2 linked regions of the Homo sapiens genome follow. The protein of the gene in region 1 interacts with the protein of each later gene in a biochemical or structural test. Each region holds a gene or a part of one and is shown on either strand. Other genes may lie near its edges.

Region 1 (7,169 bases):
CCTACAGGGCAGCGGGAGGGGAAGGGTCAGGCCTCCCTCCACCCATCAGGGAGCAGAGACCAAAAAAACCGGGGGATACGGAGGGAGGCTGTATTAACCCTGGGAGGTACAGCTGCAAACACAGACTTGTTCAGGCTAAGTTCAAATCCTCACCCTGCCACTCACTGGCTGTGACCATGAGCAACTTAATTAACCTATCTGAGCCTGTTTCCTCTTCTATAAGCTTCCAAATTGCTGTGAACATTTAATGCCTAAATAAATGTACAAGGATGAGCATGGTGGCTCATGCCTATAATCCTAGCACTTTGGAAGGCTGAGGTGGGAGGATCGCTTGAGCCCAGGAGTTTGAGACCAGCCTGGGCTACATGGCAAAACCCCATCTCTACAAAAAATTAGCCAGGGGTGGTGATGTGCAACTGCAATCCCAGCTACTCAGGAGGCTGAAGCAAGATTACACCTGTAATCCAAACACAGGAGGATCACTTAAACCCAGGAGTTCAAGACCACCCTAGCCAACATGGTGAAACCTCGTCTCTACAGAAAACAAAAAATTAGGCATGGTGGTGCACACCCGTAGTCCCACTGAGGTGGCAGGATTGCTTGAGCCCAGGAGTTTGAGGCTGCAATGGGCTATGATCACACCACTGCACTCCAGCCTGAGTGACACAGCAAGACCTTGCCTCGCCGTAGCTCACACCTGTAATCCCAGAGCTTTGGGAAGCCAAGGCAGACAGATCCCCTGAGGTCAGGAGTTCGAGACCAGCCTGGCCAACATGGTGAAACCCTGTCTCTACTAAAAATACAAAAATTAGTCAGTCAGGCGTGGTGGCACAGCTATTCAGGAGGCTGAGGCAGGAGAATTGGCTGAACCTGGGAGGCAGAGGTTGCAGTGAGCTGAGATCGTGCCACTGCAATCCAGCCTGGGTGACCAAGAGAGATCTGTTAGAAAATAAATAAATAAGTAGTTAATTAAAATACTAATAAATGTACAGAACATATTTGCTTGTGGTTAAGAGCATAGTTGCTGAAACCAGCATGGGTTCAATACCAACTCTGCTAGTTGGTCTGTGTGGCCGTGAGTTGCTCAGCCATCTTGTATCTCACTTTCTCCACCTGTAAAATGGGGATGACTTGAGCACAGGGTCTGCTTCACAAGGTGGTTTGGAGATTTACGGTATGAGTTATTTATGATATGAGTTCCTTAAACCTTTACACCAGGGTTTATACCTAGAAATGAACTACTTTTTTTTTTTTTTTTTTTTTTGAGACGGAGTTTTGCTCTTATTGCCCAGGCTGGAGTGCAATGGTGCGATCTCGGCTCACTGCAACCTCTGCCTCCCAGGTTCAACTTCCACCTCCTGGGTTCAAGTCATTCTCTGGCCTCAGCCTCCTGAGTAGCTGGGATTACAGACGCCCGCCACCACACCCGGCTAATTTTTGTATTTTTAGTAGAGACGGGGTTTCACCATGTTGGCCAGGCTGGTCTCAAAACTCCTGACCTCAGGTGATCCACCCGCCTCAGCCTCCCAAAGTGCTGGGATTACAGGCGTGAGCCACCGTGCCCGGCCTGAAATGAACTACTTATTTTAAGAGCTGCTACTCTTACTATAATTCAGTTGGAGGGCACAACTACGGAGGGGAGGCTGGGTCAGCCCAAGGGGGGCACCCCAGGTGAATCCTAGAGATCTGGAAGGAGTGGCCCCAGCGCAGCCTGGACACACCTTGATGTCCTCCATTTTAACATCCAGCATCTCCTCGGGCTCCACAGCCTCTGCCCATCCTTCGACCTCCTCGTCATCCTGGAGGCTGTCAAAGATCAGTTCAAAGAACACCAGCTTCTCGGAGATGGTGCTGAAGGAGTTGTCAAAGCACAGCTTGTAGTCCCCGGCCTCCGTTGGCTCCACCCTGGGCAGACAGACACACAGACATGACCCAGGGTGGCCAGCCAGCCGACTCAGCGGGGCAGTCAGGGCGGTAACCTGAGGCCGCCTGGGAAGGGCAGGGCTGTAACTGAACCCAGGCAGGCATCAAGACTGAACTCACGTGTGTACCCCATCAGCCTTGCGGGACTCGCTGACCAACAGCACGCCCTGAGGGCTCTCCAGCGTGAAGTCCACGTCCAGTCCAGCACCTCCGATCACCTGGGGGGCAGGTAAGAGCGGGTGGAGGGCTAGCGGTAGGCCAAGGGCGCCTGCCGAAGAGGGCTACGGCTGAACCAACACTGATCAATACAGACCACCAAGGGCTTACCTGAACGGCGGCACACCCACACCCGCCCCAACCTGTCCCAGTGGCTGCGCCCCTTGCCTCCACCCTCATTGATATGACAGCTTGGGGTCCATACTTTCAGCTGACCACGCACCTACCAAAAGTACTTAATGGACGTTTACCTGACCACGCCCCTGGTTGGCTCCGCCTCCGAAAGAGGATAGGCCCAGCCTTTTTCCTTAGTCTAACCCCCGAGAAAGGCCTGTGTGGGCAACGCCCCCGCAGTTGACCTATCAGCACTATCGCCACGCCCACCAGCCAGAGTCCTGTCCTCTCAGAGGCTCCCTATACTTATCGATGGCCCCGCCCCCTCTGGATCTCTTACTCTAGCCCCGCCTGCTTCATTACTCCCTCCCCTTCCGCTCCCACACACCGTCCCCGCCCCATCTGTCCATCTCTTTCTAGCTCCGCCCCCGCGCTCCCAAGCACGGATTCCTCCCCCTTCCTCCTAAAGCGCGCCTCGCCTCGACCGCTTGGCCACGCCCCCTCTCCCTGACTCTGCTGGCCGCCCAGCCCGCGACCCTCTACCTGGTATTCGGTCTCGAGGCTTGCGTTGGCCGGCGCGGACTGGTAGAAACACTGCTTCCTCCCCGCCGGCAACAGGAACGTGAACTCACCGTCCTGGATTGGCGGGGGCCCCGCCCCTCCCACCTCCACTGGTGGCATTAGTAGCCACAAGGCCAGGGCTAGGGCCGCGCCGGCCGCCATCATCCGGGTCACCCTCTGGTCTGCAAAGGGGTCGCGGCTCCTTTAAGCGCTAGCCCTGCCCCGGTGCTACTCGGCGGAGCTCATTGGCAGTGGCTTCTGTATGTTGTCCGTAACCAGAGGTGCCAGGAGTGAAGGACCCCCCCACTAGAGGGCAGGCGGCCCGAATGAATGCCTGATGTGCCCAGAAACACTCAACCGTCTGGGAATATTTTTCTCAAAGGCTTCGGCTCTCTTCTCGGCCGCTGGTGGAGGAAAATTACAAAAATAAGTGCCATGATGGCGCATCTTTTGTAGGCAGTAGCTAAGACAACTAAAGTTACAGGCGGCAGGGTCCTTTTTAGTCACCTCCACGTGGTTTTCCCAGAGTGCGCCGCGCGTGACAACCTTTGGCGGGACCGACGTGGTGGAGTGGACCCAAAAATAGCGTCTAGGCGTGGCCCTGTACGCGACCCGTAGGGCTCGCCTATAAAAGGGCTGGGGCGGGGCGGAGATACCTGTGGCGTCGTGTTTTGCTTGCTCTGTGAGCGTGGTCCAGGTTCGACGCCTTTTGCGCCTTAGAGGCATCAGCGTATCAGTTTCCTCGTAAGTCGGGAGTGATGGAACGACCACCCTGTAGTGCGGCTGTGAGAATTGAGATGAGGCTTGGTTCATATTGAGTGCTCAGCTTTCCTGGCTTATAGACAGTGGAGGGGCGTGGCCCCACCATGCACCCCAAGGGTCTCAGACTCAAGGGCCAGCAGGTAAATAGAGCCATTACAGTAGCCTCGGGTCAGAAAAACGACAGCCCAGGTAGGAAGAGATAAGGACAGTGTGGGACTGGGAGCCACGTTGCCTGGTTCAGCTCCTGCCCCACCCATTACTTGAGGCATTCCCTCTGTTGAGCCTCAGTTTCCTCTTCTGCAAAATGGGGATAATAGGCCTACGCTACTGGGCTGTCTTTAGGATACGTGAAATGCTTGTTGAGTGCTTGCTTCCGCAGTGCGTGGGACATCACAGGCCCTCAGTAAATAATAATCTGTTATTTGGTTCCCGTCTAAACATAAACTGTGTACAGGGAGATGTTTAGTCTTCAAAGATAAACCCGGAAAAGGTTGGCAGGTGATGACAAAGATCCCTCAAATACAGCTGGCTGTTGTCAGCACTTTCCTGCATTTGGAGAATTTGGGGAAGTAGCTCTTTGTAATATCAGTTTGGTATTCCTTTTCACTCCAACTTTTTCTATCATTTACACTCACTGCTTGGACAATTTGAAGTAACAGTGGAGAACGGGTGACTCCTTTTCTTTTTTTTCTTTTTTTTTTTAATTTTTTTTTCCTTTTTTTTTTTTTTTTTTTTTGAGACAGAGTCTCCCTCTGTTGCCCAGGCTAGAGTGCAGTGGCGCGATCTCGACTCACTGCAACCTCCGTCTCCTGGGGTTCCAGCGATCCTCCTGCCTCAGCCTTCCGAGTAGCTGAGACTACAGGCACGTGCCACCACACCTGGCTAATTTTTTGTATTTTTAGTAGAGAGGGGGTTTCACCATGTTAGCCAGGATGGTCTCGATATCCTGACCTTCTGTTCCATCCACCTCGGCCTCCCAAAGTGCTGGGATTGTAGGCGTGAGCCACTGCACCCGGCCGGATTTTTTTTAGGACAGGGTCTTGCTCTGTTGCCCAGGCTGGGGTGCAGTGACGCCATCATGGCTCACTGCAATCTCTACCTCCTGGGCTCAAGTGATTCTCCCACCTCAGCCTCCTGAGTAGCTGGGACTACAGGTGTACACCTCCATGCCTAACTAATTTTTTGTAGACATGAGGTTTCCCTGTGTTGCCCAGGCTGGTTTCAAACTCCTGGGCTCAAGCCATCTGCCTGCTCCCTCACCCTCCCAAAGTGTTGGGATTACTAAAATTGATTTTTTTAAATACAGTAAAATTCACATTGCATAAAATTAACAATTTTAAGGCCGGGTGTGGTGGCTTACACCTGTAATCCCAACACTTTTGGAGGCCAAGGCAGGCGGATCATGAGGTCAGGAGATCGAGACTATCCTGGCTAACACAGTGAAACCCCGTCTCTACCAAAAATACAAAAAATTAGCCAGGCGTGGTGGCGGGTGCCTGTAGTCCCAGCTACTCTGGAGGCTGAGGCAGGAGAATGGTGTGAACCTGGGAAGCGGAGCTTGCAGTGAGCCCAGATGATGCCACTGCACTCCAGCCTGGGCGACAGAGCAGGACTCCGTGTCAAAAAGAAAATAAAAATAACCATTTTAAAATTAACAATTCAGTGGCATTTAGTACATTCCAGTGTTGTGCAGTGACTTCTATGTAGTTCCAAAACATTTTCATCGGCTCAGTAAAGATCCCTGTACCCATTAAGCAGTGATTCTGAAACGGCCTCGTTGTCTTGAGTAACACCCGGGGTCGTTGTCTCACAGCCACGAAGAACAAGGACCAGGACACACAAAAGAATGAGGTTGAGAACGAACGTTTAATAGGCAACGGAGAGTATAGCTCTCTGCTACAGAGAGGAGTCCCAGAAAAATGGGTTGCTGGTCCATAGCAAAATACAGGGGGGTTTATAGATGAGCTGGTGAGGAGACTTAGCCTGATTTACATAGGGGATGAAAAACTGGTTAGAACAGGTGTGCCATTTGCATAGGGTGTGAATTTCTGGTATCTGCTAATCTTTTATTATGCAGCCGGGGTCTCTACCTGAGCTGTGCCACATCGCCCATTTCTTTTTCTTTTTTTTTCTTTTTTTTTTTTGAGACAGAGTCTTGCCCTGTCACCCAGGCTGGAGTGCAGTGGCGTGACCTAGGCTCTCCGCAACCTCCGCCTCCCAGGTTCAAGGGATTCTCCCGCCTCAGTAGCTGGGATTACAGGTGCCTGCCACCACGCCCAACTAATTTTTTGTATTTTTAGTAGAGACAGGATTTCACCATGTTGTCCAGGCTGATCTTGAACTCCTGACCTCATGATCCGCCCACCTTGGCCTCCCAAAGTGCTGGGATTACTGGTGTGAGCCACCTTGACCAGCCCCATGTTGCCCATTTCTTAGTTCCTGTACACGTGGTAGCAAAAAAGGGGAGATGGAGCCTCCGTGTTGGATATGCCTGGCTCCCAGGTAGCCATTTTCTGTTGGTGCAGCTGCCAGCATTCCCACGTGCAAGCTTCCAGCTTCCTTATCTATGTTTGCAGCTTGAGTTTTCAGGCTGCTATTTATTAGAAAAGAAATGATATCAGGGGCTACTTTCTGTTAGAAAAGAAATTCTGCTGAGGACTCTTTGCCCTCACTGCCTGCCTAAATACTTTCTATCTCCTGTATCAACTCCTCATTACACTTTGCCCCCCGCCTCTCAACTAGCTATGTGCTTTTTGCCTCTAGGGATTTACCTACTCTGGATATTTCATATGAATAGAAGCAGACAATGTGTCACCATTTGTATTGAACTTCTTTTACTTAGCATGTTTCTAGGGTTAGACCATGTATCAATATTTAATTCCTTTTTATGGCTGAGTAGTATTCTATTGTATGTACATACCACAATCAATTTTTCTTTTGTTCTTTTTTTTTTTTTTTTTGAGACAGTCTCGCTGTGTTACTCAAGCTGGAGTGCAGTGGTGTGATCACAGCTCACCGCACCCTCCACTTCCCGAACTCATGTGATCCACCTCAGCCTCCCAAGTAGCTGGGACTACAGGTGCACGCCACCACACCTGGCTAATTATTTTTCTGTGGAGACAAGAGGTCTCCCTGTGTTACCCAGACTGGTCTTTAACTCCTGGGCTTAAGTGATTCTCCTGCCTCAGTGCCCAAAGCGCTGAGATTACAGTTGTGAGTCACTGTGCCTGGCCCCACAATTTCTTTAGCCATTCATTATTGAGGGACAGTAGAGTTATTTCAACCTTTTAGCTATTGTGAGTACAGCTGCTGTTAACATGTATGTATGTGTATTTTATTACTTGCGTTCAGTTCTTTGGGGTATAGATCTCGTGGTGGAATTGCTGGATCCTATGGTATTTCTATGTTTAACTTTTTGAGGAACAACCAAAGTGTTTTCCACAGTGGCTGTACTGTTTTCCATTCCCACCAACCACGTATGAGGGTTCCAGTTTCTCTACATCCTCACCAACACTTGTTACTTTGCATTTTGTTTTTTGTTTTGTTTTGTTTTTGAGACAGTCTCACTCCTTCACTTTGGCTGGAGTGCAGTA
Region 2 (7,024 bases), on another chromosome or scaffold:
GCCTCAGCCTCCTGAGTAGCTGGAACCACAGGTGTGCACCACCACACGAGGTTAATTTTTTTTTTTTTAAATCATTTGTAGACACAGGGTCTTGCTATGTTGCCCAGGCTGGTCTGTAATTCCAAAGCTCATGCAATCACCCCACCTTGGCCTCCCAAAGTGCTGGGATTACAGACATGAGCCACCGTGCCTGGCCTAACACCCTCTTTTAATGCTTTCTCAATGACTTAGAATCAGCTGTATCAGGGCCATGAGTCCCTACATGGGAAAAAAAAAATCTCAAAATGCTGTCTTTTTTTTTTTTTTTTTTTGAGACAGTTTCACTCGTTGCCACAGCTGGAGTGCAATGGCAGGATTTTGGCTCACCGCAACCTCCGCCTCCTACGTACAAGCCATTCTCCTGCCTCAGCCTCCCAAGTAGCTGGGGCTACAGGCATGTGCCACCACGCCCGGCTAGTTTTGTATTTTTAGGAGAGATGGGGTTTCTCCCTGTTGGTCAGGCTGGTCTCGAACTCCCAACCTCAGGTGATCCGCCCACCTCGGCCTGCCAAAGTGCTGGGATTACAAGCATGAGCCACCATGCCTGGCCCAGTGCTATTTTAGAGTACTTTGGCTATTCTTCAGGAAGACATTAAACATAACCACGTCTCTGTGCAATGCAGTGAGCCATGCTGATGGCTGGGTGGATGCAGACCACCGTGTGGCTGCCCCTGTCCTCAGGCCACAGTGCTGCTCATAACACCCACCCTACTTCCTCTTCTATCTCCTACTGCCTTGAAGCAGGGTGGAGCAGAGCCTGAGGGTGAACCAGGCAGCTTGTTACTTAGAACATAAATAAATATATAGGTCATCCTCAAGAAGCAAAGGGATAAAGTGAATAACATGCTTTTAATAGCCATTTGGTTGAGATCCTTTTAATTGGCTTTTACATGCCCATGTCCAGCAGGTGGAGGTTGCCAGAAGTCTGGATATTGATTGAAAAAGTAAGAACACTATAATTTCATTGAAGTTTTAAAAGTATGGCCAGGTACAGTGGCTCATGCCTCATAATCCCAGCACTTTAGGACGCTGAGGCGGGAAAATTGCCTGAGACCAGGAGTTTGAGACCAGCCTGGGCAGTACAGTGAGTCCACATAAAAAAAAAAAAAAGTTTACCGTACCTTTACGTCCAAAGTAGCACCAAATGCCATTCGGAAATCTCCATTAAAATCTTTAGTAAAGATTCTTTGGAATGTCTGCTTGAAGAGAGAAGTGTTGAAAGAATCTCCCATTACCATGTAGCCTCTAGGTAAGAAGAAAAAAATCAAGTGAATATTAGGAAGATTGAAAGCCATTCAGATGCTCCCTCAGTATTTACAAAAATAATTTAAAGAAAAAAAGAAACCAGGTCCCCAAAAGAGCCACTGATTAATTTAAATATAAAAAAACAGGCCAGGCACAGTGGCTCACGCCTGTAATCCCAGCACTTTGGGAGGCCAAGGAGGGCGGATCACTTGCGGTCAGGAGTTCAAGACCAGCCTAGCCAACATCGTGAAACCCCATCTCTGCTAAAAACACAAAGATTAGTAGCCACAATCCCAGCTACTCAGGAGGCTGAGGCAGGAGAATCACTTGAACCCAGGAGGCAGAGGTTGCAGCGAACCAAGATCGGACCACTGCACTCCAGCCTGGGCGACAGAGCAAGACTGTTTCTCAAACAAAAAAAAAATTAATAAATAAGTAAATAAATAATAAAATAAATTAAAAAAATAAAAACAGCATGTTAAATTCATACTTGGCAAAGAAACTACTTCTAAAGCATTAAACAGAAGCCTTAAGAACAGCTCTAATTCCTCTCACAGTTCTTTGGTATGGGAAAATACCCAGGCCTGTGGGAAATCCTTTTCAGGTTAATTTACTGCCTCAAAATACTGAATTCTTGACTTTACAAGAATTATGTTTTCCAACTCATGAGTATTAATATTAATCCCTTACTGAAGTTAGAGGAAAACATTGTGCAAAATGTCAGCATTTCATGCATTTGGACAGAAAAGCACAGCTTGACGCAAGTTATGCCTCCAAACGTCATTCATAAAACAAGATCTCAGAATCTTGAAGAACACAAGAAAGATCATCTGGTCCGGCCATCTCAGAGTGCCTGAACCGTCTGTCAGCTCTTTGGCACCAAATATCTACCTCTTCCTTAGTTTCCTGGAACAATGACATTTTCCAGCCTGCCTTGCCTATGGCCATGTGCCTCTGTTGGCATGTGCGTTCTGACTATTGCTGTGTCCTTTATATGTGGAGTGTGTTCCTCCAGGAAGAGCAATCCTTCTCTGACCTTTCCTCCTTCCTGCTGCTGTAAATGGCTAGAGCTCCAGCAACTGTCTTGAGCCACAGATGGCATATGAATGGTGGTAGAGCAGCTTAGTAGGAGCCTCAGCCCGTAATGATGACGAAAGCAACATACCAGCCCCGGACTGCCTACCGCCAGAGAAATAAACTTATTGTGGGTTTTCTGTGACATTCACACAACTCTAATACTAACACTCAACCAAACCCTCTGCAAAATACCTGCCAAGTTACATCCAGACTAGGCTTGAACTCCTCCAGCATTGGGAGCTTCCTCCCCAAGCTGTCCATTCTGTGTTTGAACAGCTCTGTTAAGAAAGGCCCTTCTTGATATTGAGTGAAATTTCATTTGCCAGCAGCTTCCACCCACTGGTTTGGTTCTAGTTCCACTCTTTGGTCACATACAGAACAAATCAGATTCCTTCACAGGGAAGTCCCTCAACTGCTGAATACAGTTCTCACACCCCCATGTGTCTTCAGCTTAATCTTTTCCAGCTACTTCAATCATTCCTCACATGACAGTTTCCAGGACTCTCCACCACTGCTCTTCTTCAAACATCTCCAATTCATCTCCTATTGCCCCTTGAAATTGCAATGTTCAGAACAGAAAACAATGTATTTGGATAAGGTGTGACTAGCACCAAAGAAACCAAGAATATGGTCTTCCCTGAAGATAATCTTCTCCTATAGCACAGCCTGGAATCACCTTGCCTTTGCTGGAAGTCATCCCACACTGTTGGCTCACCTTGAGCTATACTAACACATGTGTGCAACAGATGGTAACTCTTCACAGAAAAAATTCACACAAACTAGCATACAATCTAAGGGATGTTCACAAATACACTAAAGCTTTTCTATGGACATTCCGAGTCAGAACTCCTGGAAGGCCGTGGTAGGAATTCATACTATTAAATGTGGATTACTGAGATAGCTACATCAGTATCATTTGGGACCCTAATTCTATCACCTAACTCATCTGCTGCTCTCTAGGACAACTCCAACTGATTCTGGTTCTACCTTTTATTCCTTTTACTCACTGGGGACCAGCAGCATCACCTGTGGGGTTGTTAGAAATGCAGACTCTCAGGCCCATTCCACAGCTCTATGATGCTTCTCAAACTTCTGTGCATGCAAATCACCTGGGATATTGTTCAAATGCAGGTTCTGATTCAGGTCTAGAGTGAGGCTCAAGATGCTGCATGGTTCTCAAACTCGGCTCTATGTTAGAATCACGGGAGAAACTTTTAAAATGCTGATGCCCAGGCTGCACCTCATGCTAATTAAATTAGAATCTCTGAGGACAAGACCTAAAGAAAGTGTAGCTTTTAAAGTTCCCCTGGTGATAACAATACGTAGGCAGCTGCAGACCAGTGCTCATCAGTGGTTCCTACACTTTCATGTGCCCTAGAATCTCCTAGAGAGCTGCATTCCCGGGGTTTCCGATTCAGGAGGTCTGGGTAAGGCCTAGAAATATACAATTCCAATCAGTTCCCAGGAGCCCCTAAGGCTGCAAATCTGGACACCACCACATGTTGAGAACCACTGCTCCACACTCTGGCCTGTGAATACAATACTGACTCAGGCTTTGAGTCAGTACAACCTCTAGGCTGAGTGCACTTGGAGTTAGTCACAAAGTATGGCCACTTAGCCAGGTTTATCCTAGTTGTTTCAGCATTCAGACCCTGTTTTCCCCAATTCTCAAAAGGAAGTGCCCTGATGAAGGCCAGATAGTCCATGCTGCTTGCTTTCTTGGCCTGGTCTCTGTAAAAGTGTTAACAACTCTAAGGAAGAAATAAGTTACTCTGAAACGACTTATTTGTAGTGAACTCTTGAGCCCTCCTACTAATCACTACTTCCCTCTCCAAGGAGCCCACAGGCCCTCCCCAGTCACTGAAACCATAGCCCAGAGCTACCTGAAAGCTTCTCTGAGTTGGCCTTGCCCATTCCTATGGCTCCATCACTAATTTCTCTTTCCTTAAAATAACACTGTCACTCTGCCCAGGTTTTCACTGTCAACATACCCAGTAAGATTTGCACAACACTTCATCTCCAAAAGTCCAGTTTGATCAAGGGCACAAGCATAAATATCAATGCAGTGACCATTTGCAGCTGTTCGATTAGCAAGCATCTCATAGTGCTGTGAAGAGAGGAAAGCTATCTTTAGGAAACAGTGACATTATTCCCAAGGTATGCCTGAATTACCGAAGGAGGTAATCAAATATAAAAACATGTAAATCATTTTCTTTTCTCTTTTTGTGACAGAGTCTCTCTCTGTTGCCCAGGCTAGAGTGCAGTGGTGCGATCTCCACCTCCCGGGTTCAAGTGATCATCCTGCCTCAGCCTCCCAAGTAGCTGGGATTAAAAGCGTGCGCCACCATCCCCAGCAAATTTTTGTATTTTTATTTTTATTTACTTTTTGAGACAGTCTCACTCCGTCACCCAGGCTGGAGTGCAGTGGCACGATCTCAGCTCACTGCAACCTCTGCCTCCCAGGTTCAACGGATTCTCGTGCCTCAGCCTCCCGAGTAGCTGAAATTACAGGCACATGCCACCATGCCCAGCTAATTTTTGTATTTTTAGTACAGACAGGCGTTTCGCCATGTTGGCAAGACTCGTCTCGAACTCCTGACCTCAAGTGATCCGCCCACCTTGGCATCCCAAAGTGCTGGGACTACAGGCGTGAGTCACCACTCCTGGCTTAAATTTTGTATTTTTAGTAGAGATATGGTTTCACCACGTTGGCTAGGCTGGTCTTGAACTCCTGACCTGAAGTGATCTGCCAGCCTCGGCCTCCCAAAGCGCTGGGATTACAGCCGTGAGCCACCGGGACTGGCCTGGAAATCATTTTCAAAAATATCTGAATAAAATAAAAATATAGTTTTCATTCTCAAAACCCTTTGAGTAGTTTTAAGGCCACCCACTCTAATTAAGGTCTGAAAGTAGGAGCAATAATTTAACAGCAGCTAAGATTGGAAAACTGTCTCTGAAACAGCGTCTTGCTGACCATGACACATGACCTTGGCAAAGTAGCTGTCACTCCAGAGCAGCCCAAACCTGACAATGGGCTTTCAGAATTACAGCCCATACCCAAGAGCACCTACCTTGGTTGCCTTTTTCATGAATCGTGCATTATCTTTCTCAATATCATGCCAAGAACGAATAGGAATCTTTAATTCATCTCCAACCACCATGCCAGGCCCTTGGGTAGGGGGACCTCCAGTAAACAGCATGATCCTGGCTCCTGTGTTTGGAAAAGTGCCCTAAAATAGCGAATGGCAGCATGTTAGAAGTATACAGCCTCACCTTTTAGTATGGTTTCAGTTTCCCAATAGAAATACTCCAAAGATGCATTCTCTCCAGCTGTCCTAAAAAGTGGTGATAATGCAGAATAATACAGATGATAATGCAGAAAAGCAGCACTTGTCTTCTTCCAACCTTATGGGTTTGCACAGTTTTATTAATTCGCTGTTTGAGTGCTCCCTATTGCTCTAATTCTTAGTTTTTCAATGAAAACTTTTGGCATTTTCAAAATGTTGAGGGGCTCCCTCAACGTGAATGATAATGATGCCTCAAATGCTTTCTGATACATTAACACAGACGGTTGACTTAGATCACAAGTGATTTTCAAACAAAGCCAACAAATATATTTTCTGAGAGCACATTTGTATGATTTGAGAGGTCCTGGTAAATTTTAAATTACCTCCAGCAAGCCAACAGCAATGGACAAAGCCACACCAGTGGATCGCAAAGGTCTCTTCCCCTGAGTTACTGGCCATGGGTCCCTCTGTAGCTCCCCAAGAAGATCAGTGAGGTTCATATCAATCTTGTGAACAGGCTGCAGAAATCTGCAAGATTTTAACAGACACATCAACCCAGATTGAATAAAGTACTCTGGTCTTCAACACTAGGTGCCACATAATTACTGCTCTTCAAGATAATTATTCAGAGTAGTAACTGACTGGTAATTTTTTTCTTCAAAGCTATCTCTCTACTAACACAAAACAATTTAAAGCAGTTTTATTGAGGAATATAAAGCCCAGTACTTAGCAATTTACTTATGTTGCACGGAAAAAAAAATTGTCTGGAAAAGGAGCAATTCAGTTTAATTAATTTTTAGACAGCAAAAAAATCCTAAGGACATGCCTAACATGAGTTCAGTCTATGTGAGGTCCATTTATGTGGACAATCTTCATCATTCCTCATCATTCTAATCTGTGCTTCTCTTAAGCCTTGAAAGTAAGAGGTTGTCTTCAGCATGTCGGGCAATGCATTTTATCGAGCTTGTTAGCTCAGTCTAGGCACTCAATGGGCTGAGTCAAGTGAATACCCGGTCATAAGTATGTTTGAGGACACATGAAAGAAGTCTTTTCAGTTTTTCCAGTTTTACTTAAGCATCAAAAAGGACATCAGATGTGGAATGTCTAAAAACAGCAATTGAGCACAGTGGTCTCCAAACCTTTTTGACAAAACACTGAATATTGATTAGGCTTAATCATTTATCTTTTTCTCTAATAATAAGAAAATACAAATTCTAATATTTTTCTTCCCTTACTCCCATGGATCATCTGCATGTCCATCACAATACGTGTAACACTCCATGTTGGGCTCTCACCTGCTTGAAGCAAAAGGGTGCTCCTGTGGTTGTGCAGGTCGTGCTTGCTGCATGGGCATGGCTGGCTTGGTCAGGCCCAAC

Evidence for each region. The genes of interacting proteins can lie anywhere in the genome.
Region 2: the proteins of TMED1 (region 1) and SEC23B interact in a test that uses a peptide from one of them, tested with the Homo sapiens proteins (one study listed by BioGRID).

What each region holds. Positions count from the first base shown.
Region 1 is NC_000019.10:10,833,213-10,840,381, forward strand, and holds the start of TMED1 (transmembrane emp24 domain-containing protein 1 precursor), read right to left. Parts: upstream 3,001-7,169; 5' UTR 2,980-3,000; coding exon 2,797-2,979; intron 2,529-2,796; exon of another isoform or gene 2,391-2,528; intron 2,380-2,390; exon of another isoform or gene 2,320-2,379; coding exon of another isoform or gene 2,251-2,319; intron 2,142-2,250; coding exon 2,044-2,141; intron 1,906-2,043; coding exon 1,722-1,905; intron 2-1,721; coding exon 1-1. UniProt on the Homo sapiens protein: Potential role in vesicular protein trafficking, mainly in the early secretory pathway.
Region 2 is NC_000020.11:18,524,940-18,531,963, reverse strand, and holds part of SEC23B (protein transport protein Sec23B), read right to left. Parts: coding exon 6,944-7,024; intron 6,177-6,943; coding exon 6,032-6,176; intron 5,592-6,031; coding exon 5,433-5,591; intron 4,469-5,432; coding exon 4,353-4,468; intron 1,285-4,352; coding exon 1,161-1,284; intron 1-1,160. UniProt on the Homo sapiens protein: Component of the coat protein complex II (COPII) which promotes the formation of transport vesicles from the endoplasmic reticulum (ER).